4 linked regions of the Homo sapiens genome follow. The protein of the gene in region 4 purifies or fractionates together with the protein of the main gene of each other region. This does not show direct contact. Each region holds a gene or a part of one and is shown on either strand. Other genes may lie near its edges. The genes, in order: LTF, DMBT1, SCGB2A1 and HBM.

Region 1 (7,024 bases), on a different chromosome or scaffold from region 4:
CTCTTTGACCCAGTAATATTTTTACAACTATATTAAAAATAGAGAAGTGGACAAAGATTTCTACTCAAGAATGCTCACCACAGGGTTATTGATAATAGCAAAGTAAGGGACAAAGAGGAATGGGGGCATGACTAAACTGAGCCATATTCACATAAAAGATATCCTGGAAGCATGTTTAAAAAATGTTTTCGTCCGAGTGCTGTGGCTCACACCCGTAATCCCAGCACTTTGGGAGGCCGAAGCAGGAAGATTGCTTGAGCCCAGGAGTTCGAGACGAGCCTGGGCAACAAAGCGAGACCCTGTCGCTACAATAATAATAATAATAATTATGCAGGTGTGGTGGCGTATGCCTGTAGCCCCAGCTACTTGGGAAGCTGAGATGGGAGGATCACTTGAGCCCAAGAGTTCCAGGCTGCAGTGAGATGTGGTCGCACCACTGCACTCCAGCCTGGGTGACAGATCAAGAATCTGTCTCTTAAAAAAAAAAAAATTAATGCTTTCCAAGAGTAAATATTCATGTGGAAGAATGCCCATTATACGCTGTTTAGTGAAAAGGGCTTAAAAACGACATACTGCAACACTTCATTATTGTTGCATGCATATCTGCAGATGTGCAGAGAAATACTGGAATGGAGAATTAGCCAGACTTTAACCATGTCTGTCCCTCTGTGTGAGATCACAGGTGGTTTGGGGGGTTTGTTGTTGTTTTGTTTTAACATAATACCTTTCCATATTTTCCAAATTCCTTATAATAATCCTGAGTTGTTCTTATAACCAGAGGAGTGGGAAACCCACAGTAAACTGCTTTTTGAAACTAAAATGCTTTCTGGCCCTGAGCACACCTCTCCAGGCATCCCTGCCTCACCCAGGCCCCCGTGGCCTCTTTGACTGTTGACTTCACTTTAAGCAGATGCCCAGGCCCTAGGTCTTCCACCGGGCCCACCGCCCGCCCCTGTGATGGAGCTCCCTACCAGCACCAGGGCGATGCAGTCCTCTGTGGTGGAGGCCGAGGAGCAGGTCACGCTGCCTTCGCTCAAGCCACTCCACTGGTTACACTTGCGCAGCTCCTGCTCGCCCACCGCACACCACACGACCCGCGCACGCCGGGCAGCCACTTCCTCCTCACCTGCCAGAGGGAAGACCGCAGGTGGCTGGGCAACCTGAGCTTTGCCAGGTTGTCCAACCTCCCCAGAGCCAGGGTCCTGCCCAGACTCTCCCTGGAACAGGAGCTACAGTACATGTGTGGACATGTGGACCCATACCCTCTCCTCCTCCACTTCTCAGCTCCAAGCCCCTTCTTCAGGTCCACAGAGCTCCCTGTGTTTCCCACTTCTGTTCCTTTGGAGAAGTTCCCTGGCTTCTAATCTATCCATTAATCTTTAGAGTCAGGAGGCGCCTATTGTCTCTGTCTCTGAGGATAAACGCTCCATGACCCAGAGACCAGTGACAGTCCCAAGAGATGGCCTAGGGGACCTTGAGCCCAACCCTGACTTCCCCTAACGCCTGCAATCACCACCAATAACTACGGTGCAGCCTCTGGGTTCCCCCAGACTCCCACCCCCAGCCCCCCAGTAGAGAAGGAGCCATAGCTGAGTTCCCCCACCATGGTGTCCCCAACTAAGTTCAAGGTCTGGGCCTGGGAAGTGTGGGTAAATCCAGGCCCCCGGATTCATCCAGGAGGGGTCCTGGCTATCTTTGTTCATGTTCATGTTTCTCACTTAATAGGAGGCAAACTGATTTTTCTGCCAGGCCTGGGGAGCCTGACGTGCACTGATCAGGTGGCCAGACTATTCTTTTAGAGACACCTGACCTAATCCACAGAAGACACTCACACCTGCATCAAACCTCCACGATGACCCCACAGTGTCTGGGAAAAGGAGTGACCGCCACAAAGTAGGGCCACCTGCTGGGAAGTAGAAGACCACACCAGGCGGACCTCAGGACCCTCCTGGGCTCACTCACTTTTCCTCAAGTTCTGGATGGCAGTGAAGTAGCCGGAGCCAAGGTACAGCCCAGAATCTATCCTCGGGGGCACCCTCGAAAACCCAATGGCAGAGTCCTTGAACAGCAGATCTTTCTGCCCACTAGGGGAGCCAAAGAGCTGGAATTTCGGTGACTTGTCCTTTCCAAACTTTTCCTAATTAAGAAAAAATAGAATTATGGTGTCAATGGTAAATAGGGAGGAAACAAAAAAATGATGTTAAAAAAGAGTATCTGGAGCTTTGGGATCATTCTAACTGAGAGCAGGAGCCTCGGTTGAGACCCTCCTGCAGAGGGACTTGTGCCATCTCGGAGACCCAAGCTCAGCTATGGCTCATTCTTTGAAGAGTTGCTGAGGTCCAAGCACCTTAGGGCCCTGAGAAGATTGCATCGACCACCCCCTGCTTCTGCTCCCATCATAAGACGCTGTCAGCCCGTGTGACAGAAGAGTTTCATTGCTTCTGCTGTCCACAGTACAGCCTGGGCAAGCAGCCCAATGCATTAGTGTGCTATCCTGCAGCAAAGCTACAGGACTTCTGGAGTGGCAGAAGTCAGGGAAGTAAGAAACCTTGCTCCCTGCCCCCCATATCCAAGCAAGTGGGGAGGACCGTGGGTGAAGATACCTGTGCCTGGCGGAGAAGATTCCAGATGGCATCCTCCTTGCCATTCACACTTCGTGCCACAACGGCATGAGAAGGGACCCGGGCCAGATGGCAGTCTTTGAACTTGTCCACTGGCTTCCGAGTGTTGTCTGGGCAGAGTAACTCATACTCGTCCCTTTCAGCCTCGTCTGACAGGTCCTCTGCAGGGAAGGTGAGGTGGGAGGGAGTCTAGATAAGCCGACTCCAGCAGTAACCTCGAGCTATAGTTCCCCTTCTCCCTATAGAATTTTGAGCTTGGGGAGATAGCTGACAAAACTGAGGGTCAGAAAGGCAGGGGTTTGCTCCAGAACACTCAGAAAGGTAAAGGTAGTGCCCCAAAAGCCTCAGGGGGCAGCCGAGGTGTGATCCTCATCCTAAATCACTTAGGCCACCCTGGGGTTCCCGTGCAGCTGCTGCCTGGCAGGCCAGAGAGGCCAAACCAGACCCGTCTGTTTCTGCGGCATCTCTGCCTGGAAAAGTCACTTTGCAGAGACAAGCTCAGGGGGCCACCAAGGGTTGCTCCCTTACTCACATCTCTGGGAAGAATAAAAATGACAAAAATGTTAACAAGGCAGGGAATAAGGCAGGAAGGTGAGACACTTTCCAACACTGAGTATATCAAAAGAAGGGGAAGAATGGTTTTATGAATGAGTTCAGGCAAATGTGGAATATCATATATAAGTTGCTTCAGAATGTGTAAAGTGAAAAAAATCTTGCCCGAGTCATTTTATGAGATTAGTACAACCTTGATGTCAAAATCAGAAAAAGTATAGGAGGGAAGAATTAAAAGTTTATTTTACTTACGAACATAAATGCAAAATTTGTAAATAACGTACTAACTAACTCAATCTCACAGAGTATTTAAAAAGCTAATAGATTGGAATGAAGGTTTACCAGTGTATTCCATTAACAAAAGAATGGCTGAACATCAAAAAAACTAAAGTAATCTGCATTTAATGGCAGAAAACCATGAGATCGTCTTCATCTTAATAGATGCAGAACGATTGTTTATGTGTTCAACATCTATTTGTGTGTGGTTTTTTTTTCAGCCTCAGAAAAATAGTAATAGATAGAATCGGTAAAGTTTTTTTGTTTGTTTTGAGACGGAGTCTCACTCTGTTGCCCAGCCTGGAATGCAGTGGTGCGATCTCAGCTCACTGCATCCTCCATCTCCTGGAGTCAAGAGATTCTCTTGCCTCAGCCTCCCAAGTAGCTGGGACCACAAGCGCACGCCACCAGGCCCAGCTAATTTTTGTATTTTTAATAGAGATGGGGTTTCACCATGTTGGCCAGGCTGGTCTCGAACTCCTGACCTCATGTGATCCACCCGCCTCAGTCTCCCAAAGTGCTGGGATTACAGGGGTGAGACACCACGCCTGGCCATAAGTTATTGGCTTGATAAATGCCATTAATCTACAGCAAAAACCTTACTAAAAGAAGAAAATGTAGACATTCACCGCAAAATCAGGAACAAGGCAAGGATGCCCACTGTTACAATGCCAGCACAATTCTAGATATCCAGATCACACAATTTACAAAAGAAATGTGAGATATAAACACTGGAAGGAAAAAGACACACTCTTATTTAAAAAGATGATATCGTCATCTACAAAAAACCAATGAAACCAACAGAAACTAATAAAACTACTCAGAGGAGTAACAAGTTATAAGAGCAACCTACAAAAATCAGATGTTATCCTCATTAACAATAACCAAATAGAAACCAATATGGACTATAAGATGTTACAATAGCAACTAAAACCATTAAGTAGCTAATAATTAGCCTCCCACAAAGACACATCAGACCCACAAAGGAAAAATTTTAGTTCTATCAAAGAAACTAAAAAGAGGTGTGATCAAATGGGGGAGATTTAGCATCACCATGGACTGGACAACTTAATGTTATAAATATGCTGATTTTTCATGGAACAATTTAAATTCAGTACAATTCGAATCAAAATTAAAGTATGATTTTTTCCAGAAATTCAACAAAATAATTCTGAAGTTTTAGCTGAGTATATTTGAAAAGGAATAATAAAGTGAGAGGGGAGAGGGAGCTCTCTCTCATTCTCTCTCTCTTCCTCTCACTGGCTCTCTCTCTTTCTCTCCACCAGATAGTAAGACCCATTGGTAAGCCACAGTAACAAAAGCAGAAAAAATGCAAATACACCAATGAAATAAAATAGCTCAGAAACTGGTCCACTTGGATATATACAAACTTGGTGTAGAATTGGCTTCACATATGGCAGAAAAAATATACTTTTTTTATTGTAAGGTAAATTGCCTCACTGTAAAGGGGATAAAATGCTAAAGCCAAATCTATATCTGACTTTCTAGGTAGAGCACATATAAATAGATGAGGAAGGGGATCTTCAAATCTTATTTTAGGAAATAATTATGATTTGGGTGTGAAGAAGGGCATCTTTGAAATATCTCAAAACTACAAACCAACAAGGTGAGGCTTGTGGATTTGACCTTATCAATATCAAGGATTTTTGATCAACAGAGACTACCGTTGTCAGATTTTTGACTGAGAAGAGGTTTTACTAAAGTTTAAAATCAGCAATAGTTTGATACCTAGATAGAAGGAACTTCTGTCCTTGAATCAAAATCATGCAGAAACAAGGTGTGAAACTCAATTTAAAAAGTAGTCAAATGTCACAAAATAAGAAAGGGAAGCCCAAACGGCTAGCAAATATGTTGAAATGATCAAACTCACCAGCTGTCAGAGAAATGAAAATTAAAAATAAAACGAACTATCTATTGCATTACAACCATCATTCGGACAAAAAGTATGAAAGTCAAAAATACTTCTAACTGAAGTTGTGGGGAAATTAGAACACTTGCAGAGTGTCATTCCAGACAGCAGCTTGGTGATCCTGGGTGCATGTGGGGTCTGTCTCTGGTGGCCCTGGGTGCATGTGGAGGTCTGTTTCTGGTGGCCTCTGATGAATGCGGGGTCTGTCTCTGATGGTCCTAGGTGAATGTGGGTGTTGTCTCTTTCTCTGGTGGTCCTGGGTGGATGTGGGGTGTGTCTCTGATGGTCCTGAGTGAATGTGGGTGTCTGTCACTTTCTCTAGTGGCCCTGGGTGGAATATAGTAGCCCTGTCTCTATTGGTCTTGCATGAAATGTAGTGAGCTTATGTCCACTAGTCCTGGGTGCAGTGTGTTTAGCCTCTACATACTCATCAACTGCTTTATTATAAGTCCAGGAGGGACGCTGTCCAGCACGTAAGTAAGGAACACAGGTGAAGGTATCAGTCGTGTGGCTGCATGTGGTAGAGGAAAAGAGAGCACAACCTCTGTCCATCACTATGGTGACAGAGAAGTAAAAGGTGGATGTATTCCACGGAACACTCCTCAACTGTTAGGACCCCTGAGCTAGACATGTATACAACAATACCGATAAACCTCTAAAACAAAATGCTGAGCAGAAAACCCAAGTAGCAGGATTTCTAATGCTCACTAAAACCTCTATGAACCCAGAAACCGGAAACACAAACCAGCACAATCTGTTCTGCATGAGCACATGTGTCTTGGAGGACTGGAGGACGCATTGCCAAGCACCTAGGCATGGGTGTCTATGAGGGGAAGAGAAAGGCAGTAGGCACAGGAGGTTTGAAGAAAACTGATCATTTAAAATATGAAAGATCATAAAATCAGAGCTGTGCCCTGTAGGAATCTTGAAAATGGTCTGCCATGAACTTAGGAATCTAATTAGCTCAAAGGTCAGAGTCATGATCAAGTAAGATAAAAGGGGTCAGTACCCACGGCTCATTACCCTGCTCTTACCAAACACTGTGCTCTCTCTGATAAAAGCCACGTCTCCAGCCCCGTCTCTCAGACACCTGTGAAAAGAGAAACCATCAGGGGTAAGCACAGGCAGCCCTCCCCAGCCCCTCCCTGTGGAACAGTAGCCCTGGCACTCAGCATCTATGGGTTTCTACTCCCTGCAGGGCAGGGCTCTGAAGCTTTGGGGCATCCCAGCTGGGAAGGTAGGGGCCCCCTCCAGGTAGATACTGAAGAATGACTCAGGTGCTAGCCAGAGGCCCCCATCTTCTGCTTTGAGGGCTAAGAGGACAAAACTTTTTTCTATATAAAGGAGAGTTTTGAAGCCTCTACCCAAGAGGGTAAAGCCTTAGCATCACTGTTCATGTGGCTGTTTTCCTCAGGACTGAGTGTGCAGGTGTGCCCTGGCCAGTGGGGAAGTGTGGAGGCCTCCCTCTGCAAAAATACGCTAGTGCCAGCAGACAGAATGGGAAAAGGGGGAGCTCAGCCTCCGCGTGGGGGCAGAGAGGATGGGGGCGAATCAGGCATTGCTCACTGTCCTTCAGCCACGGGGAGAGGCCCAGGTGGGCAGAAGGACATCAGCCTGGACACTGCAGCGGTCCTGCCCAACCAGG
Region 2 (7,334 bases), on a different chromosome or scaffold from region 4:
TCCTGGTTCTGCTGTGTCCACACATTTTGAATAGACCCTTCTGCACATACTGAGACCAATCTGTAGTCTTCCAAGAATCAACCACATAGCTGTAGGTTACTCCAGCTGCCATTGTGGGAATGGTGGTAAATTGCCTGAAGGGAGAAGAATCACTTCTGGAAAATGATTTATTAATTTTTTTTTTTGAGACAGAGTCTCACTCTGTCACCCAGGCTGGAGTGCAGTGGCACAATCTCGGCTCACGGCAACCTCTGCCTCCTGAGTTCAAGTGATTCTCATGCTAACAAACACTGGTACCTTCCTACTAAGTTTACTCCAGGCTTTATCTGGATTTCACCAGTTTTTCATTTTCTGTTGCAGGATCCAATCCAAGAGCTCACATTACTTTTAGGAAGCTGCTTTTGGATAAAACATGAGGAAAATGTCTAGAGTAGTAACACTAAATGGTTCTGAGGCTCTGTCTATGTGCCAGATACTGCATGGGTTGGAACATAACCTCCATTTATAAATGAGTAAACTGAGGGTCACAGAGGATCCACAGCAGGCAAGTGGCAGAGGAGGGGCATTGCTGGGGCTAGCAGTGGGTACCACAGCCTTTCCTGCCCAGCACAAACCTGGGCATACTGAGTTTTTCTCAAGAGTTTGCATGAAGACCAGAGCTGACAGGTGCCTGCCACCTCGGTACTTCCAGCGCAAAGCTCTGTGGTCAGGCTCCAAGCACTGAGTTAGATGCCACAGTTCAGTTCATCACCTCAGTTCCCTGCAAGGAGCAGCAAGGGCCAGTGGGCCAGAGCTGTCATCTGAATGCTAGTGAATTTGATCCAGATTCAAGCCCTAACCCAGCCACTCACCAGTGCTGTCTTTGGACAAGCCAATAACCTTTCTGAGCCTCAGTTTCCCCATCTGAAATGTGGAAATAATTGTTCCTAACTTCAGCAATGTTAGAAGATTTAAATAAGAGAATACAGGTCCACTTCAGAGAGCATGAATTCCCACCTCTGAATGGCAAACACAGGCATGCATGCACATGTGTGCATGTCTGTCCATATGCATGCACATAACATCATGGGCAAACTACAAATGTCCTCAATCCAAGAGCACTGCTGCCTGTTGTTTCTTTGTAGATAAAGACGAGGCAATTCACTCCCTGTCTACAGTGGCTGATGTGAATTCCATGTCATGGTTCAGAGACAATCTGGAGGGTGAACTCGGTACTGACAAGAGCTGGGGCTGAGGACGCAGCCTCCCAGTTTCAGATGCTTCTGATGGAGGCAGGATGAGGATGCCCAGTCTCCACTCCCCTGAGGTCCTGGGCCTGGTGGCCCCCAGTCCCTCCACACACTCATCACAGGGGGTGGGCCTGCTCCCTACCACCTGGGTGGGAGGGCTGGGTTTGGGGGTGCTGCTTTCATGAAAGCAACCAACCAGATGAACCTTAATCTTCAAAGCTTCCCCCACTGAGCCTAGGGGGAGAGTGACAGTTCCAGAAGTTACCTGAAAATTAGGTGATTTTTACCCTGTATCCTGAAATTCATAAATCTAGCAAAAGATGACATAAAAGAAAAAAAAGGCAGTAGGAAAGATAAAAGAGAAGAAGGAAGAAAGAAATGAATAAAGAGAGGGAGAGAAAGAAAAAGGGATGGAAGGAAGGTAGAAAGAAGATAGAAACAAAGGGAGAGAGAGAGAGAGAAATAGGGAGGAAAAGTGATAAGAGCTGCCCAATAGATGATGAGAAAGAGTGAGAGAGAAAAAGAGAGGGGGAGGGAAGGTGATAATAGCTGCCTGACAGATGAAGAGAAACAGATAGAGAGAGAGAGGAAAGGTGATAATAGTTGCCCAATAGTTGAAGAGAAAGAGAGACAGAGACAGAGAGAAAGGTGATAATAGCTGCCCAATAAAGAGAAAGAGAGATGGAGAGAGAAACAGAGAAGGAGGAGGAGGGAGGGAGGAAAGGTAATAACTGCCTGATAGATGAGAAAGACAGGAAGATACAGTGAGGGGGGCAGGGAGAGAAAGGCAGAGGCAGAAACAGAGGGAGGAGGAGGAAGAAAAGGTGATATCTGCCCAAAAGATGGGAAAAAGAGAAAGATACAGAGAGAGAGAGAAACACAGACAGACAGACAGAAACAGAGGGAGAGAGAGGGGAGAGAAAAGATGATAATAACTACACAATAGATAAGAGAGAAAGAGAGAGAGAGAGAGGCAGAGAGACAGGAAGAGAGAGACAAAATAGGCAAACTGAGAATCACTTGTTCCTCTAGTATCTCTGCAAAATGCCATTGAGATGCAGCAATCAGAGTGCGCTACCGACGGCTCTCTCACGTTTATCATCTGACTCTCTAAGAACATACAGCTATGCTTGAGTGACTGGGCTTCAAGTGTTTGTTTAAAGCTGTGCATGACAGAGAAACTTGGAATTCCAAGACAAACTTGGAATCTTAATGATCTTGTCTGCGCTCAATTACTTGACCTGATTTTGCTCGGCAAATATTAGCCATCAAGCCAGACACACCTGTAGAAAGAAGCCACATAAAGGGCATTTGCAGTGGGAATCCTTTCTGCCCGTTTTCATAGCACACAAATTGTGTGTTTAACCAATTGTTGCAAAGTTTAAGGGCCTCTTAATAATACACATCCACCTTTCCTAAACTTCAGGGATTTTTCTAAGACAAATCAATCATTCCTTTAGTTGAATGACTTACTGAAAACATTGACTTAATGACTGGCTTTTTCTAACTACAACCATTTATATTTCTCAGCCAGAAATAAAACAAAAAAGAGCCATTCCTCCTGAATACCTGCAAACAATTACAATTATCAGCAAAGTGCTACCCACTCTTTGATATAAAACTTCCCTTGTAATGGAAAGTAGTAGATATAATTTGCCATGATTGGGTCTGCAGGAGAGAAATTAATGAATATAATAATTAAACGTAATACCTGTAGATAGAACTTGTCCCCATAAAAGACACATTTCAAGGATGACTGTGGAGATCCCCATTTTGCTGGGTTCTTCTCAATTGAATAGAAAATCCTGGACATTTATAGGTACCTAGCTAAAAGGAGGTGTGTCCTCTAGGGTGGTATATTTCTACTGCTGCTATAAATCAATATAAAGGAAGTGAGGGCTTTTGCTAACAGTCGATGGCTAATATGTGGAAAAAACTTAGGTGTGTTTGATTGATTGCCATATGAACAATCTGGCTGTTGCCCAACTGCAAACGCACTGACATAAGTGAAAAATTTCCAACTTCCCTCTCGGTGAACCTCAAGGACTCCCAAGTGTTTCCTGAATACGGGCTTGATTTTAATCTTGGGGAGTTCAAATTCACCTGTGGGAAGTCTGCCCCAAGGTTTGGGGAAGAACAGGATGTGGGCTGCTGAGCAAATACAGGACACAGTGCCAAGGGGGAAAGCATCTCTGGGATGGTTTTTCCTGGCAGGACATGCTCTCATCAGCCCCTGTGCAGTACTAGTAACCTCACCTTGGAAGAACGAGGATGACATGAGTGTGGATGTGATCAGAGAGCAGAAGTCATGAGGGATGATTCCACGGAGACCATGGGTCCATAATAGCTTTGGCCACAGTCTTCTGGGTCTCACACTAATTCCACAACAGGAGCTGAGAAACACATGACCTCAAACTGAACCACCTCCAACCATTTCACATGGCTTTGATTTCTTGTCCTTGACATGCACATTGTATGACCCTTGGAGCTTGGCAAACCCACAAAACCTGCCCCCACCTCCACCTATATTGCACACAATCCCCCTCCTTGGATTTGCTATGTAAATATCACTTCACTCTTTGGGACCCTCAGAAGTCATTACCAGACTCTGATAATGCCCCCCAACACACTCTACCAAGAAGGTTGCCTGACACTTATTTTTTAACCAAGACACTTGATGGCCAGTAACTCTTGGTTAAAAGCAGACAGCTTTCCAGGACTTGCCTCTGTTTTCCTAGCCTGGGTGAGCTGTGCCCTGCTTCTCAGCTGAGAGGCTGAGGCCATGAAATGACACTTGGCTTCTTTGCCATGCACTGTTCATCAGTAGTCTATGCTGCATTCTAGAAGGGTACCATGAACCCATGTCCTGTGTCAGCCACCAGTCAGAATTTAGGGCTGGAAGTCTGCCTTTGGCTTCATCCAGATGAAAGTTACATTTAATCTTGGATGTCCTTTTTAATCCTACAACTCTTCCTGTTGTTTCCAGGTGCCTCTTCACCCCTTGAGTAGAACAGGAACACAGAATAGGCTCACTGTGTTTCATCCTCCTACTGCCAGATCAGCAACTGATAAGCACTGGGTGACGAGAGAACAGGTTTACTCACCTACCAGGGAATGCCCAAGACCAGGCACATGCTGGATTCCTCTTAGAAGTGGATTGTGATCCCTTGGTTCCTGGAGTGTTGGACTGAGAATGATAATGCAGCTGGGTCTGGGATCATCAGAGTGTCATGACAGATTAGAATTGTCTGCCGGGAGCACAGCAGGGAAAGATGATGGTAAGAATACTAAATACCTGTGAACAGGAAGGGGTAATAAGTGTCCTTCCAAGACAAAAGCAGACTGTCTGGTCTTAGAGACAGACCTGCCTGGTGACAATTTCAACAGGGGGTAGCAAGTATTAGTACAAGCTGCTATGAGAAGGTAAAGAAAAGCATCTAAATCAGATGAGGGAGGCCATCTCTCAGAGAGGGTGGCACCAAACAGTCTTGAAATACCAGCAGAGGTCAGCCCAGCAAATGAGAGCGAGAAGATGGGATGACGAACAGGAGCGACTCTCCCGGCTGTACAGGAATGGGGGCAGGGAGCCTTCCCCTCCAGGAAAGCATGATGTCCCAGGTATCTCTCAGCTTGGCGGGGACACCCTTCTTGAGAATGTGTGGGATTTTCTGAACTGCGTAACCTCCCCGTTTTTGTTGTTTTGACTGCATCTTTTGCCCATGGTGGTTAGCAGAAAAGATCCTGAGAAAATAAGGTTTGTGAGCTTTTTGTTCAGGAGACACCAGGAAGAAGGAAGTGGTGAAGCCTAGCTGTCATTTCAAAGCCAGCCCAGGTAGGCATCCCAGGTGGGAAATGGGTGACGTCAGTGGAACAGGAAGGATGTGGCGGTCCTGGGCATGCGGGCAGAAGACAATGGGCTTGAGGGCCACCTGCCAACACCGTGTGGGACCTCAGCCTTCACCGTCAGGTGCCTCATCTTGTCCCAAGGCCATTTTGTGGCTCATAAGACACCATTTAGGGAGGTCTTTCCTTGGACTAAGAGAAGGGTTCAGGGGGACAACCTCCTCCAGCAGCAGCCCCTGCCAGAGGACCCTCATCTTCCCCTTCCTACTGGTTAGAAGCATCTGCTTAAACAGCAGGGGTTGGAAGACCACAACCACAAAGTTCCATTTTATTCACCCCAGAACTGCCATGAAGAACAACAGGAAGCAAGATAAGCCCATTAAAGCTCAGAGACTCGGCGCCCGGGCCCCATTTGCAAAGCACCTTCCCCAGGCAATTAAGCCAGCGGCACCCCCACAGCACACTCCAGGAGGTGGGACCAAGCCCCTAAATCCCAGCACCAGAGGACTGGTCATTATGGGGAAGAGCCCCCTGGATCATATGTGGCCATTTATTTATTTATTTACTTATTTATTTTAAGACGGAGTCTTGTTCTGTCGCCCAGGCTGGAGTGCAGTGGTGCAATCTCGGCTCACTACAACCTCCGCCTCCCAAGTTCAAGCGATTCTCCTGCCTCAGCCTCCCGAGTAGCTGGAACTACAGGCGTGCATCACCACACCCAGCTAACTTTTGTATTTTTAGTAGAGACAGGGTTTCACCATGTTGGCCAGGATGGTGTCGATCTCTTGACCTTGCGATCTGCCTGCCTCGGCCTCTCAAAGTTCTGAGATTACAGGCATGAGTCACCGCGCCCGGCCATGTATGGCTTTTTTTTTTAAAGCTACAGAATCCTTTCCTAAATTGGAATTCATGGGGAAGCCCCAAAACATAAAACAGGCCAGTGGAATGCTCCCGAGTGTGGTGAGGGAGTCCCCTTCCAGGCCCCTCCCCTAGGGCCACCTGCCGTCAGAGCTGAGGATTACCTGTGGGAAGCCAAGACCTCCCTTCATAAGACAGGGCACTGAGAGGCCCAGCAGGGCCCCTGGGGCTGCCAGGCACACATCCCTGCCACGAAGCTGAGCTGGGGTCCCAGGCAGACTTCCCAAAACAGCCCGTTGTTCTCCTTCTTCTAAAGATTCTTTCTACCCACAGACCAGTGCCCTGGGAAGCCAGAGGAAGACGGAGATCAGGGAGGCAGCCCAGGGCCCCTCCCACCTCCCACCTCTGAGGGGTCTCTGATTTCTGAACCAGGAGCCCTGTGACCTGACAGACAGACGAGGGGGACAGAAGGACGGGGAGCCTGGTGGGAAGGGTCGGGGCTGTAGCACTTTCCGGCTGCTGCTGTTTGCCTTCCAGTCCCTGAATCCTGTAATCTGTGTGACCAGGGCTCCCCTTCAGGTGTCAGTCTGACCCCAAACTCTAATTTTACCCTCATTGAGTAGCACACCATAATTGCTGGTCATCGTTACCGTTGTAACAATCTTTTGACATTGTATGTCTGATATTTATAATGTCGCTCATTTTTGTTGCTCAGAGAGCCGGTCTTCCCAATCGGGTTATAAGGGGACCCCTTCCTACCCTCCTTCACTCACTCCCCCCACCCCCCACTGCCCCACACCTCCTTGCTGGGCTTTGAGGATCAAGCTGAGACCCGTTGTCTCCTGCTGCCCCTCTGTGATCCCAGTGCCCCAGCAGAGCAGGTGCTCAGCAGGCAATGGCTTTGAAGGTGGGGATTGTGAGTGGCTCACCCATGCTGTCCAGGGGTCCCCAGAAAGAAGTCTTGTGGTTAAACGGGGGCTGGTGACGAGCCAGTTCTCCTCCACCACTCAGCCTCCAGCTGGGGACGATGAGGTCCAGAGAAGGGAAATGACACACAGAGCTGAGACCATGTCCAGGACAGCACTCACGGCAGCTGCTGCCCCCCATCTGAAGGACAGATGAGCTCCACGTTCATCAGGATGCCATCCAACCGCGGAATCTTCCAGCAACAAACACAGCCCTCTAGGGACCCCTGACACACAGAAATCCCATTGCATGCCTCCCATCTTGCTCAGAGTAAGGCTCAAAGCCCTCCCATGGTTTATAAGGCCCTGCACAAGATACCCCTGCCTCTCTCTCCCCCTTGCCCCCTGTAACCATCATCCAGCCCCAGGGCCTTTGCACTTGCTGCTCCCTGTGCCTGAAGACTTTTTCCCCAAATGTCTGGAGACTCACTCCTTCCCC
Region 3 (7,913 bases), on a different chromosome or scaffold from region 4:
CTGTAATCCCAGCACTTTGGGAGGCCGAGGCGGGCAGATCACCTGAGGTCAGGAGTTCAAGACCAGCCTGGCCAACATGGTAAAATCTCATCTCTACTAAAAATACAAAAATTAGCTGGGCATGGTGGTACATGCCTGTAGTCCCAGCTACCTGAGAGTCTGAGGCACAAGAATTGCTTGATCCCAGGAGGCAGAGGTTGCAGTGAACGAAGATCATGCCACTGCACTCCAGCCTGGGCAACAGAGTGAAACTCCATCTCAAAAAAATTTTTTTCTTTATTTTAGAAAATGCAGAATTTGCACAAATTGTATTTTCTGAGCTAGATAAAAAAAAATAAGAATGTTTTGAATATTTGTTTTTGTGAAAGTAGGAAATTTCTTAGTAGATTGCTCCTACAAGTGTGTGATCTCTTGAGAACCAGATATTTTCTCTTGATAAAAATGTGCATGTTCTGGCTGGGTGCGGGGGCTCAGACCTGTAATCTCAGAACTCTGGGAGGCCAAGGGAGGCAGATCACTTGAGGTTAGGAGTTTGAGACCAGCCTGGCCAACATGGTGAAACTCCTTCTCTAGTTAAAATACAAAAATTAGCCCGGCGTGGTGGCGCACACCTGTAATCCCAACTACTCGGGAGGTGGAGGCAGGCAAATCTCTTGAACCCGGGAGGTGGAGGTTGCAGTGAGCCGAGATTCACGCCACTACACTCCAGCCTGAGTGACAGAGCGAAACTCCGTCTCAAAAAAAAAAAAAAAAATGCCGATGCCTGTCCCCGTGTGTCTGTGTGTGTCTATACTTGTGTGCTTATGTGTGTCTGTGTCTGTGTGAGAAGGGACTGGTGAGGTCAGAGGTAGACGGGTGATCTCTAAGGCTTTCTTTTCTCCTTTTTGCCTTTTCCATTTATCACTCCCTAAAGATTCTCAATGTGAAGTGGCAAAGCAGCCTGGAGACAAAGTTTAATGAATTGATATATAAAGAAAGTTTGTTCACCAGTTGCTTGGCATTCTTGGTGCCAAATTTAGAGCCCGCTGGTTCTGATCAGTGATTTTCAAAGGGTACATAAGAAGAAACCCAAATTACCATCATCAGTCCAAAGTTTTTCAGAGTTCTATGTGACTGGTTGAGGAAACACTGCTTGAATTTCCCCATAGCCTCTGCAGCGGCATCACTGTCTATGAACTCTTGAAGAAGCTCTTTGTATTCAGGTATAGATATGTCGGAATTGATGGTCTTTTCAACCATGTCCTCCAGGAGTTTGCAGCCAGAATCTGGAAAAAAAAAAAAAAAAAAAAAAGACACAAGAACATGGGCCATTACTAGAGGTGTGATTCATTCTACAGATGAATTGGGAAGCTGGCTATCTTCGTACCTCCAGGGACAGACCGAGGTTCAGAAAGATTTTGGTGCAGTATGCAGAGTTCTCAATTCTGGGAGTGTAAACTCAGGCTCTGCAAATTCTCTCTGACCTTCCAAACCCAGAGAAGCCCAACCCTGTGTATTCTTGGTGAAGAGGACCCTCGAGAAATGAGGTGTTCTGACTGGGGGGACATAGCAAACACTACTTGGACTTTCTTGGTTCAAAGTCATGCAATGCTTCCCTGTTATCATGCCCAGCATCAGGTAGGGTTTCCAAGGATTTCAGATGAATGGGTCTAGGACATTGTCCATTAGTTCTGTTGACTCTACTGCAATAAAAGGGAATGTGTGGCCAGGTATGGTGGCTCACGCCTGTAATCCCAGCACTTAGGGAGGCCAAGGCAGGCGAATTGCTTGAGCTCAGGAGTTTAAGACCAGCCTGGACAACACAGGGAGACCTCATCTCTACAAAAAATTTAAAAATTAGCCAGGCATAGTGGTGTCCACCTGTAGTCCCAGCTACTCGGGAGGCTGAGGCAGGAGCATTACTTGAGCCTTCGAGGAAGAGGTTGCAGTGAGCTGAGACTGTGCCATTGCACACCAGTCCCAGTCCCAGCCTGGGTGACAGAGCAAGACCCTGTCTCAAACACACACACACACACACACACACACACACACACACACACACATGAATGTGAAATAGAGCTTGTTCATGAGGGGATCTGAGGTCACCTCCCACTGTAAGGGAGAGGAACGAGCTCAGGACGTGGCTTCATGTGAGCTGGTTGTGCTCTGGACTTTGTGATTTTCCAGTTAGTTGACTGTGAGCTTGTCACCCTTCTACACATCTGCACCTACCTTGGATGCCAATACGGTAGGGTTTGGAATCCACCTTTGTGAACTGCACAAGGCAGGCTACCTATGGAAATATTAGCGCTGATTCCAGCAGCCGGGGCTTTTTCCTCCCACTGAATCTTTAGTGCTGGAAGGAGACTCCAGGGGTTGTGAGTTCTCACCTGTCTGCCTTGAGCCTGAAGCAACTGGGAGGGTAAGGGCATCCCAGAAGGACCCAGATCAACTCTGAGAACACAGAGTGAGCCACACAGGGTGAGAGACACTGGGTCACACTCTGCAGCCTGGGCCTTCTGTCCTGGGAGGTTTCCTATTTCGTTCCATATTCAAGGAGACCCATGATTATTTCCTGATTTCTAGGTGTAGATGCCATCTCTCCCTTGCCCCACTGAAATAGTTCATTTCAATATTTAATCCTGAGACTCATCCTGGTTTCTATGGTCACCGTGACCATGGTGAGACGCTGAGTGCCATGATACACTGTGTGCAGCTCCAATGCAGGGGACAGCCCATGAGGACACTGCATGCTTGATTGTCAGGAACTCATGGGGATCCTAAGGCCTATCGCACCCAGGCCCTTCACACTGGGGCTCGTCTGTGCTGGGGATTAGAGGTTGGGAGTTCTTCTACAGGGGCCCAGGTGACAATTCCTAGCCCAGAAGCAGCCCTCTCTGCCCAGAACTCACCTGCATAGCAGTGCAGGAGGAGGGCCGCCAGCATGAGGACCATCAGCAGCTTCATGGCGAGGCGGCTGCTGTCTGTGTTCAGTCGTGCGTGGCAGGGATCAAGGAAGTTGCTGTGGAGGTGAGTACCCAGCCCTGCTCTATTTATTCCCCAGGGAGGCACCTTAGTCCCTCCCAGGAATGAGGCAATGTGTCAACCTGGCATGGGACCAGGACACAATAGTGTACACCAATGGGAACACAGCCAGCCTGTGCTCTGTTTGTAGAAACCAAGAAGGCAGTAATATTTGGATCCCTGACAATCTGGGGACTACAATAATGATACATGGCTTTTAGTAAAATGGATGTGACAGTGTTTTCCAAAATATAAAGCAAAACCCAGTGGCGTGATCTTGTGGTCTCAACAATGTTGTTATTATTGTAGTTTTCTTCTAGTCCTCCTTCCCTTCTTCCTCCTCCTCCTTCTATTCTTTTTCTTCTATTCCTCTTGGTCTCCTCCTCTTCTCGTTATTCTTCAAGGTACAAACAGTTTCATAACTTGTGTATCTGCCGGTCCTGGAATCATCAAATATTTGGGCTATGTGCAATACCTGCATCTTCCTATGGGAGGCAGACCTTCCTAATCCATAGACATTTCTTTTTCAGAAAAGCGGGTTTTTTTGTTTTTGTTTTTTGGGGTTTTGTTGCTGTTGTTGTTGTTGTTTTGAGACAGAGTCTCACTCTATTGCCCAGGCTGGAGTGCAGTGGTGCGATCTTGGCTCACTGCAGCCTCCGCCTCCCGGGTTCCAGAAATTCTCCTGCCTCAGCCTCCTGGGTAGCTGGGATTACAGGCATGCGCCAGGACACCTGGCTAATTTTTGTATTTTTAGTAGAGACAGGGTTTCACCATTTTGGCCAGGCTGGTCTCGAACTTCTGACCTCAGGAGATCCACCTCACTCAGCCTCCCAAAGTGCTGGGATTACAGGCGTGAGCCACCATGCCCAGCCCCGAAAAGTGCTTTAAGTTTTGGGGAAAACATTAATATCTAACCTCTACTGAAAGCTTCTTGTTATTCTTGTTAAGAATTACAACACTAAGTTAATTCAACTTTACAAATTTATTTTACAATATATTTATAATTTAATTTGTGCTTAGTTCTTTGTTAGCCTTTTACGGTTTTCTATCCACTGACTGAGAGGATGCTGTGAGTGAGTGGAGTAACTGACTGCTTGGGCAGGCAGTGCTAGGCAGTGGGTGGCAATGGGGTTGGGTGATGATGAGATTTAGGTGATAAGATTTGGGCAGGTGTGGGTGTGGATCCTGGAGGCCACACGTACTCATGCTGTGTCTTTGGGCAAATTACAATGCTGGTCCCTCTGGGCTTCCTTTCTGTCTTTGTGAAACGGGTATAAGTGATGCTGAATTTTTTTTTTTTTCGAGACAGAGTCTTGCCCTGTTGCCCAGGCTGGAGTTCAGTGGCACGATCTTGGCTCACTGCAACCTCCGCCTCCCGAGTTCAAGCGATTCTCCTGCCTCAACCTTCTGAGTAGCTGGGATTACAGGCATGTGGCACGAGGCCCGGCTAATTTTCGTATTTTTAGTAGAGACGGAGTTTCTCCATGTTGGCCAGGCTGGTCTCGAACTCCTGACCTCAGGTGATCCACCCACCTCGGCCTCCCAAAGTGCTGAGATTACAGGTGTGAGCCACCGTGCCCGCCTGGCCGTGAATTTTTGTAAAGATGAGAGATACTCTGTAAATTTTTTTTTTTGAGATGGAGTCTCACTCTTATTGCCCAGGCTGGAGTGCAGTGGCGTGATCTCAACTCACTGCAACCTCAGCCTTCCCGGGTTCAAGCGATTATCCTGCCTCAGTCTCCTGAGTAGCTGGGATTACAGGTGTGCACCACCACGCCCAGCTAATTTTTATTTATTTATTTATTTATTTATTTATTTATTTATTTATTTATTTTGTATTTTTAGTAGAGATGGGGGTTTCACCATGTTGGCCAGGCTGGTCTCAAACTCCTGACCTCGTGATCCACCCACCTTGGCCTCCCAAAGTGCTGGGATTATAGGTTTGAGCCACCGCTCCCGGCCGACGCTCTGTAAATTTTTAATCACGCAGCCAAGCATGAGATAATTCTGAATAAATGGCAGTTGCATTCATGCGTGGATCCCTTGTTGTACGCATCACTGTTTTGCTTCTCCTGTGAGCTGGGCCTTGCACTAGATTCAGTTATAGAAACAGGTTAGACCAGGTGCTTGCTCCTGTGGACCTTATTTTCTAATGAAGGACACAAAGAACAAGACTAAAGATATATCAGAGGTATGAGAAAGTGGTCATTGCTGCAAAGAACAACAAAATATTCACAACAGCTGAATGCTGTCATAGATGGCCTGCCCAGGGGCAGTGGCCTGTAAGCCCCCCAAGGCAGCCTGTAGGAGCAGGTGCTGTTTCAGCTGAGACTTGGATGAGTGGATGGTGATGTCCAAGGACACATCTGGGGAAGAGAATTCCAGGGAGAGGGAACTGCAAGTACAGAAGCTTGAGGACAGATGGCACTGGCAAGGTAAGGAAGGGAAGGAACGTGGCCACATAGAATCAGGAAAAGGACGGGACAGCCTCACATGATAGAAAGCCCATCCCTGTTTAATTAGGGGCACAGTGAAGGTCATAGGAACAAGAAAAACAAAGTTGGCTCAGGTAAAAAAAGAAAAAAGAAAAAAAAAGAAGTCGATGAAACAGCCAGAGGAATGAATCCATTGTTAATTCCCTGTGAATGCATTGTTTTCTCTCTGGATTACTTGCGACATGTTTCTTTCCACCATTCAGGTGGAGCCTCAGTGGCCAAGAACAAACCTAATTTTGGGGAGGACAGAAAGGAGAAGTGTTGTTTACTTACCACTGTACACAGCTGACCCTGGCTGGTGGCCTTGTTTCCCAAGGGTAGTGAAGGACCTTGATTATGAAATGTGAGAGTGTCTCCTTGGCCAGTACTTATTGGGGCTCTGCCTGGTGCCCCAGTCCTTGTGGCCCTGCCTTGTCAGTCACCTTCTTACACAGAACAGAACTTCAGGAAAGGCCTCTGGTCTTGGAGCCATCTTTGTTGGCAGCAATATGCCTGTTGTTCAAGTCACCAAGGCCTCGTCTAGACCCAGCGCCTCCCTCGCGCCCGAGCCTCATGCTGGGATTCCAAGTCTGAGTTGCTCAGTGTTCAATCCACCCCAGCACCCCCATATTCCAGCTCAGTGTCCCAAAATGTGTCAGAAGCTTGCAAAGACTGACCTCCCCCTGCGTAGGGGTGAATACATCTGGTGACACGGGGTTGGGATTGAGTGAAGGGAACAGGGTGAATCCTCTAAAGAGACCACAAGCATCAGAAACGCTTTCTGGCCTCTCCTTTCTGAAATGGGGCTGAGGAAAGGAGAGGCTGTAGCTTCCATGGGGAGTCTACAGCAACCAAGGAAGAACCCCCTTCCCCTTACACACACACCCAAGATGCACGTGACGGTGGTGCGTTTTTCATACTCACTCAATTGTCAGAAGAGACCTGTGACCCTCTGTACCTCTGAGAGGCCTGGGGAGACACACACAGGAGACTATAAGCCCGGACGGGAAAGGAGAGGTGCAGAGAGAGATGGATGAAGGGCTCTGGAAGGCCAAAGGAGGGAAAGGGTGCTTTCCCTTAAGTGGGAGAAACGTCCTCTGGCTCAGAGGTTGAGGGGAGGCTGTGGGTAGGGAGAGGTAGGTTAAAGATGGATAAATTCAGAAGATGCCGGAGGTGACTCCCAGAGGAGTCAGATGATTGAAAAGTAAGGAAAGGATAAAATCCCTTATTCCATGGGGCAGTCCCATCCCAGCTGGACATTCCCAAGACTCCCAGGAAGGATCTGGGAAGGGAGGGCCTGAGAAGCTGCAGCTCTGCTGAGCGCCGCTGTGTTGCACTGCTGGGTCCCATCTCTGCAGGTTCTGCAGCCCTTTCTCGTAAGGGTTGGATGGCAGGTGGGTGGTGAGTGAGGACTCGGAGCCTGACCACCACTTGTGTTCACATCACAGCTCCTCCGTTTGCTGACTGCCACATTGGACAGGAGACTTAATGCTGTGTGTTCCCTTTAAAATGGGAACAGTCATAGAATTGCTGTGATTCACAAGTAAAAAGTGGAAAGTCCTGAGAACAGTGCTTGGCACAAAGCAGGTGCTATCCAGATGTCAGCTGGTAGCCATTATTTTTGAATAATAAAAAAATGTATTTATGGTAAACTCCAAGGACCACTAGGACTGTTCGACACTACTGAAACTCGGCTTCCACATAATATTCTCTAAAATATTTGAGTAACTATTCAGATATAAGCTAAAACTTTTAAGTTTGAAAACAAAGTTCTGTGTTTTGATCCATGTGTATTTGATTTTTTTTCAGCGTTCCCCTTTCCTCAGAGGTTTTTTGGTTTTATGATTTTTTTTTTTTTTTGGAACAGGGTCTTGCTCTGTCGCCCCAGCTGGAGTGCAGTGGTGCCATCTTGGCTCACTGCACCCTCTGCCTCCTGAGTTCAAGCGATCCTCCTGCCTCAGCCTTTCCAGTAGCCGAGATTACAGGCGCACACCACCACGCCCAGCTATATTTTTGTATTTTTGGTAGAGACAGAGTTTCGCCATGTTGCTCAGGCTGGTCTCGAACTCCTGGGGTCAAGTGATCCGCCCACCTTGGCCTCCCAAAGTGCTGGGATTATAGGCATGAACTACCACGACTAGCCTCAGAGTTTTATTGAAATAATTTACAAATAACTTATCACCCAAGCATCTTCTACTTAGTATTACCATATTAATCTTCCCAGAAACCAGTTCCAATTTATTGAACATGTTTACATACATTTTTTAATTTTTTACCCAGCTTTACTAAGGTAAATTGACAAATAAAAATTATATTTATTTATGGTTTATATGTTTTGATGTATATATGCATTCTGAAATGATTAATTCAAGCTAATTAACACACCATCATCTCACACACTTGTTTTTTTTGTGATAAGAACATTTAAGATCTCAT
Region 4 (6,200 bases):
GCTGCAGGGTCACAGGGAGGGCTAACCAGGCTAGCGCAGGTTTGCCACTGAGGAAGTGTCCATGGGGGAAGGAAGGGGAAAGGAACAGGTCTGCGGAGCCCTCTGCTCTGGGCCAACGAATTAGGTTGCACATTTGGCTCTGGGACCTCAGTTTCTGCATCTCTCTGCAAAAAGGGCCAGGATTAGCATCTACAGGTCCCAGCAGGAAGTGGGGATGGAGGGAGAATGAATGAATAAATGCGTGAATGGGGAAGTGCTTTGCGAACAGTATGGTTGGAAGCCCGATTCAAGGGTTGAAGTCGAAGGCCACCCTCCCTACCCCCGCCACATCACAGTGCTCCCTCTGCCCCATCGCACTCCTCGCCATGGGAGGACAAACCTCCGGGGGTGGGGCGCATTTGAGAGTTCTAGGAGGCTCCTTTTAGGTCCCTGAGCTTCACTGGCCAACAATAGTGACCTCGCTTTGCTAGCTCCCCAAAGACCACACAGGCAGGGGCAGATGGTTCGGGCCTCTGTTTATTGACAGGCACAGACCAAGGCCTGCGCAGCACAGGGCTCAGCGGTATTTTTCGGTCAGCACCACGGCCACACCAGTCAGGAACTTGTCCCACGCCGCTTGCATTTGCACGGTGAACTCGTCCTGCAGGTGGGAGGCCAGCACGACGTGGAAACACTGGATTAGCAGCTGCAGGAGAAGGGGCCGGTGAGACGGGGTCTGCCCCGCTAGGGACCCCCAGAGCCCCCCCACCCCGGCTGCGCGCTGCACCATTGCCCCGGCCGGAAAGGCCTCACCGGAAAGTTGGCTGGGTCCACGCGCAGCACGAGCGCGTGCAGGTCCGCCAGCGGGCTCAGCGCGGCGCGCAGGTTGTCCACGTGCTGCACCGCCGCGCCCACAGCCGCCAGCATGCGCTGCCCGTGGCTCAGCAGCTGCGTCGCGTCCTGGCAGGCGCTCAGGTGCGGGAAGTAGACCTTGGTGCTGGGGTACACCGTGAAGAGCCTGCAGGACCAGGTCAGTGACCGGGGAGGAGGGCGGCTGCGTGGGGCTTCACTAGCGCCCACACCGCCCAGAGCCCGGGGATCCGCACCCGAAGGACCTTGGATGGCGTTGGCGGCCCACGCGCCCAAAACCCTCATCTCCACCTCCCTGAGCTCCCGGAGACCCCGCCTCTACCGACCTGAGCAGCAGCTCCGCCCCGAATTGCGCCTCGTGGCCCGCAATCAGGTCCCAGACCTGCGCGATTTGGGCGCGCTCCTGGGCGCTGAGCATGGCGCCGCCTGACGTGCTCTGGGGGCCGCGCCCGCCGCCCTGGCCTCCTTATAGAGCCTCCGGGCACCCCGCCCGTCCTTATCGGCCCGAGCGCGGCGGGAACGCGGGGACCCTCGGCCTGCGCCGGGGAACGTAACCAGCCCGGGTTCCCGTCTGTGTGGAGGCCTCGACCTCCGGGATCCCAGGGTTTCTGGCATTGACCCACGCCGTTGCGCGTGGGCACCTTTACTGCAGACTTTAGGGGCATCTGTTTACTCCCCTCGGGTAAAGTTACTGCTCTGCCAGGAGGGAGCACATGGGAGGAACCGGAGAGAGAACACCGGGCAGGAAACCCCCTACTCTCTTAGGAGTCGGGGAGGGACCGGCCTCAGGGACCCCCGTAGCTGCCAGAGTCCCGGGATTCGGACGTCAGGCTTTGTGGAAAAGTTCCCTGAGCCCCGACACGCTTCCAATACGCTTAGTGAAGTGACAATCTTTGTGCGATATGGGAAGCCGGGAGACGCACAAACGCCCGTCCGACTCAAGGACCCCAGGAGACGCCGCGGGCCGGCCCGGGACTGCTCCGCTCCACCCGGGCCGCAGCTCCGGTGCTCAGGGGCTAGAACCTCCCCAAGGCGCCCCCCAAGTGAACCCCAGGCCGCGACGACAGTGGGGACGACCGAGTTCCTGCGAAGCCCCCGGACCCATCACTCAGCTTCTCCCCTCCTTCCCTCCAATACTGAGAACACAGAGCCCAGATCGCTCCGTCCTCATCCATTTATTGGAGTCAGGGCAGGAACTGTGGGAGGGTGAAGGGCAGGGGAGGGGCCGCAGCCTGTCCTGGGGGTCCCGGAGGCGGCGCTCAGCGGTACTTCTCGGTCAGGACAGAGGATACGACCGATAGGAACTTGGCCCAGGCGGCGTGGGCCTCGGCCGTGAAGTCGGCGGGGAAGCGCGCGGCCAGGGTGACCAGCAGGCAGTGGGACAGGAGCTGGGGGCGGGGGCGGCTCAGTGCGGGGGCGGGGCCTAGCCCGGGCCCCGCCCCGCGACCCCACCCCGCCCCGCCCCGCCCCGCGCCCCGCCCCGCGACCCCGCCCCGCGACCCCGCCCCGGCCCGGCCCGCCCCGCCCCGCGCCCCGCCCCGCCCAGCCCCTCCCCGCCCCGCCCCGCCCCGCCGGGCCCCGGCCGCCCCGCCCGCCCCGCCCCGCCCCGCCCCGCCCCGCGACCCCGCCCCGCCCCGCGACCCCACCCCGCCCCGCCCCGCGACCCCGCCCCGCGGCCCCGCCCGCCCCGCGGCCCCGCCCCGCCCCGCCCGCACCGCGCCCCGCGCACCTTGAAGTTGACCGGGTCCACGCGCAGGATGTAGGCGTGCAGCTCGCTCAGCTTGGACAGGGCGCCGCCGATGTCGTCGATGCTCTTCACCGCGTCGCCCACGGCGGCCACCACCTTGGAGCCGTGCGCGCGCAACTGCGCGGACCCCGGGTGCAGGTCGAAGTGCGGGAAGTAGGTCTTGGTCTGCGGGTGGCTGAGGAAGAGCCTGGGACGGGGGGCGGGGGCCGTGAGCTCCCAGCAGCGCGGCCTCCCGCCACGGCCCACGCGCCCTGCGGCCCTCTCCGAGCACCGGGACACATCTGCGACCCCGCAGCAGGCCCCAGCCCCTCCTCGCGGGGCCCGGGTGCCCAGGCAGCTGCCCCTCCCAGGCTGCCCTGGGCTAGAGGCCCCCCAGGCCTCTGCAGCTCCCGGCTGATCGCCCTGCTTCCGACGGGTTCTGTGCAGCCTGGTCCCCAAATCTCCCGCCCTCCGCCTCCAGCACGCCTGGTGCCCCCAGCCCCTCCACCGTCTCCTCTGGCCACAGGACCTCCCTCCCAGCCCCAGACTGGGTTGCCCGCCACCCCTTCTGCAGGCTCATGACCTCCCAGCAGCGTTCCAGGGAAGGAAAAGCTCCCTGGCCCCTCCCAGGGGATCAGATGCTGGGAATTTGAAGCTGGGACAGTGCCCTGATCCCAGATGCTGGGACTTTAGAGGCTGTAGTGCCCTGGCTGCCCTGTAAGGCCCTTCAGGCCTAGAACGAAACCTTTCACCCTCTGCTTGTCAGAACCTGGGCCTGTGCCTGCCCAGGTCTCAGCGAGCCCAGATGGTTGTGCAACTCCTAATCGTTCCCTCCTTACCCTGCCCTCCTCACTGAGAGGGAAGGCTATCTGTCTCCACTGTCCCCTCCCCACAGTCCCCTCCTCACTGTCCCTTCCTCACTCTCCCCTCCCCACTGTGCCCTCCCCATGGTCCCCTCCTCACTGTCCTCTCCCCACAGTCCCCTCCTCACTGTCCCCTCTCCATTGTCCCCTCCTCACTGTCCCCTCCCCATGGTCCCCTCCTCACTGTCCCCTCCCCAAGGTCCCCTCCTCACTGTCTCCTTCCCACGGTCCCCTCCTCACTGTCCCCTCCCCACGGTCCCCTCCTCACTGTCCCCTCCCCACGGTCCCCTCCTCACTGTCCCCTCCCTACGGTCCCCTCCTCACTGTCTCCTCCCCACGGTCCCCTCCTCACTGTCCCCTCCCCACGGTCCCCTCCTCACTGTCCCCTCCCCACTGTCCCCTCCCTATGGTCCCCTCCTCACTGTCCCCACTCCACGGTCCCCTTCCCATGGTCCCCTCCTCACTGTCCCCTCTCCACTGTCCTCTCCCCACTGTCTCCTACTCACTGTCCCCTCCCCACGGTCCCCTCCCCACTGCCCGCTCCCCACTGTCCCCACTCACATACCTGGCCTCCCACCCAGTCCCTCTGGCAGTCCCATCTGACACTCACCTCTCCAGAGTCTCGGTGCCGATGGTGTCGGCCTGCGTGGAGATCTTGGCCCACATGGACACAATGATGGTCCCCTAAGTCTTGGTCAGAGACATGGCGGCAGGGTGGGCGGCTGCACTGGAGTTGGGCCTGCTCAGGACTGGCCTTGGTAGTGCTCAGCCCCCAGGGTCCCCTTATATACAGGGAGCTGGGCCCAGCCAGGCTGTGGCCATTGGTCAGGTGAGGGGAGGGGGCTGCAGGGGTGGTGTTTCTTATCAGATCCAGTGACAAAGGGGCCCTCAGGTGGGACTGGGGGCTGAGGAACCTATCGCTTCTGTCTCCCCTTCTGCCCACCCCTGAGTCACAGCTGGAGCCCCAGCTTCAGGGAGATTGGGGCCCCAATCTGGGCATGAGAGTCCACGTGGTCAGCCCAGCCCGGACTGGCCTCAGGAGTGACTGTCCTTGACCTCCCTGTCCCTGTGATGACAGGGTGACCTAGAGCACATGGGCCCTGGCAGAGGGACGATCCATTCCTCACTTCACTGAAACTTCTCTGGCCCACCTTATGAGCTCCAGTTTGCAAATGAGGAAACCGAGACCCCCTAGAGAGAAAGTGGGACCCAGTGTCACAGGGTGGGAAGGGACAGACCTCTCCCACCTCCGGTGTGCAGCCCCCTCACCTGAATGAGGCTCGGTCTGGGGTTCTCCTCCAGTAGCCTTGTAGGGGACACTCTGAGCCGGGCACCTAGGCAGGAAAGCGTCTTGGGAGGCCGGACTCCTCACAGAAGGTGAGGTCATGCAGGCCTGCAATTCTGCTCACTATGTTCTCATCGCAGCCTGGAGGAGACCCTCCTCCAGCTCTACTGATTTATTTCTTTTTATCCTCTCTGTTTATTAACTCCCCCCTCCTCCGTTAGACAACCATTTCTATGTGCTGAATATATTCCTTTTAGTTAGTACGTGTGCTTGCAAAGGGTATGATTTTATGCATGTATTTTAAATTTATACGAATTATAGGTAGATATAAAAATTTTGTTTGTTAGTTTGTTTCTGAGATGGAGTCTTGCTCTGTCTCCCAGACTGGAGTGTGGTGGCATGATTTTGACCCACTGCAACCTCTGCCTCCTGGGTTCAAGTGATTCTCCTGCTTCAGTCTCCTGAGTAGCTGGGATTACAGGCACACACCACCACGGCCTGGCTAATTTTTGTATTTTTAGTACAGATGGAATTTCACCATGTTGGCCAGGCTGGTGTCGAACTCTTGACCTCAGGTGATCTGCCTGCCTCGGCCTCTGAAAGAGCTGGGATTATGAGCGTGAACCACCGTGCCCGGCCCATGCACATCTTTTTTAAATAGAGGATTTTTTAAAACAAGGGAAAAAAAGGCTGGGCGTGGTGGCTTGCTCATGGGGCCGCACATGGTGGCTCGTGGTTGTGATGAGGTCGCATCACTGCACTCCAGCCTGGGTGACAGAGCGAGGTTCTGCCTCAGAAAAAATAAAAATAAAAATAATAATAATAGAAAGAGAGAAAATGCATCTTCACACACTGATGCTTTTCCGTTGCTGCGTCAGCAAGCGTGCCCCCATCCCCGCTGACAGGTGCAACATCTTCAGCCTGCAGAGCTCCCCTTTGTGAACAAGCTCTAGTTTTTTTCTATTATAAACAACTCCATGAAGAATATCAGTGCTTTGGATCTTTTCCTGGTGATAGACCTCTAGAAGGGGAATTACTAGAAGGAGACTCAAGAGTATTCGTTTTTTAGCTTTTTGAAACAAATTACTTTTCAAGACAATTATATGGACTTACAGTTGCAAAATTAGCTGTTTGAGGCTCAGTGTGGGTGCCCTTCCTGCCCTCGGGCTGTCACCGCTGGCCTGGAGTAAGTTGGAAGTTTAGCACTACACACCATGGGGCAGCTTTCAGACCGCAGGCTGCAGAGGTGAGGGAATCCCACAGGAGACTGACACCCTTTGTTTTGAAAACTCCCTGGAGGGGGTCTCCAGCCAGAGTCAGGGTAGGGGGGGCAGGTGAGGCAGGTGAGGAGGGTATTGAAAGGACGCACAGGACCTTGGGGCCTGCAGTGTACCAGGCCTTGGGGTTGGGTGCATGAGGCAGAGGGATGCGTGCGATAGGATGTTAGCAACGGTAAATCAGCCTGGCTTGGAACCGG

Evidence for each region.
Region 1: the proteins of HBM (region 4) and LTF purify together in Homo sapiens (affinity purification with mass spectrometry; 2 studies listed by BioGRID and IntAct, with this or other methods). This does not show direct contact.
Region 2: the proteins of HBM (region 4) and DMBT1 purify together in Homo sapiens (affinity purification with mass spectrometry; 2 studies listed by BioGRID and IntAct, with this or other methods). This does not show direct contact.
Region 3: the proteins of HBM (region 4) and SCGB2A1 purify together in Homo sapiens (affinity purification with mass spectrometry; 2 studies listed by BioGRID and IntAct, with this or other methods). This does not show direct contact.

Annotation. Positions count from the first base shown.
Region 1 is NC_000003.12:46,447,892-46,454,915, forward strand, and holds part of LTF (lactotransferrin isoform 1 preproprotein), read right to left. Parts: intron 6,470-7,024; coding exon 6,414-6,469; intron 2,783-6,413; coding exon 2,604-2,782; intron 2,138-2,603; coding exon 1,963-2,137; intron 1,127-1,962; coding exon 972-1,126; intron 1-971. UniProt on the Homo sapiens protein: Transferrins are iron binding transport proteins which can bind two Fe(3+) ions in association with the binding of an anion, usually bicarbonate. Lactoferricin binds to the bacterial surface and is crucial for the bactericidal functions.
Region 2 is NC_000010.11:122,556,438-122,563,771, reverse strand, and holds the start of DMBT1 (scavenger receptor cysteine-rich domain-containing protein DMBT1 isoform e precursor), read right to left. Parts: upstream 3,019-7,334; 5' UTR 3,002-3,018; coding exon 2,941-3,001; intron 1-2,940.
Region 3 is NC_000011.10:62,203,765-62,211,677, reverse strand, and holds the start of SCGB2A1 (mammaglobin-B precursor), read right to left. Parts: upstream 3,006-7,913; 5' UTR 2,947-3,005; coding exon 2,892-2,946; intron 1,266-2,891; coding exon 1,078-1,265; intron 1-1,077. UniProt on the Homo sapiens protein: May bind androgens and other steroids, may also bind estramustine, a chemotherapeutic agent used for prostate cancer. May be under transcriptional regulation of steroid hormones.
Region 4 is NC_000016.10:161,065-167,264, reverse strand, and holds HBM (hemoglobin subunit mu), read right to left. Parts: upstream 1,288-6,200; 5' UTR 1,268-1,287; coding exon 1,176-1,267; intron 998-1,175; coding exon 793-997; intron 686-792; coding exon 557-685; 3' UTR 501-556; downstream 1-500.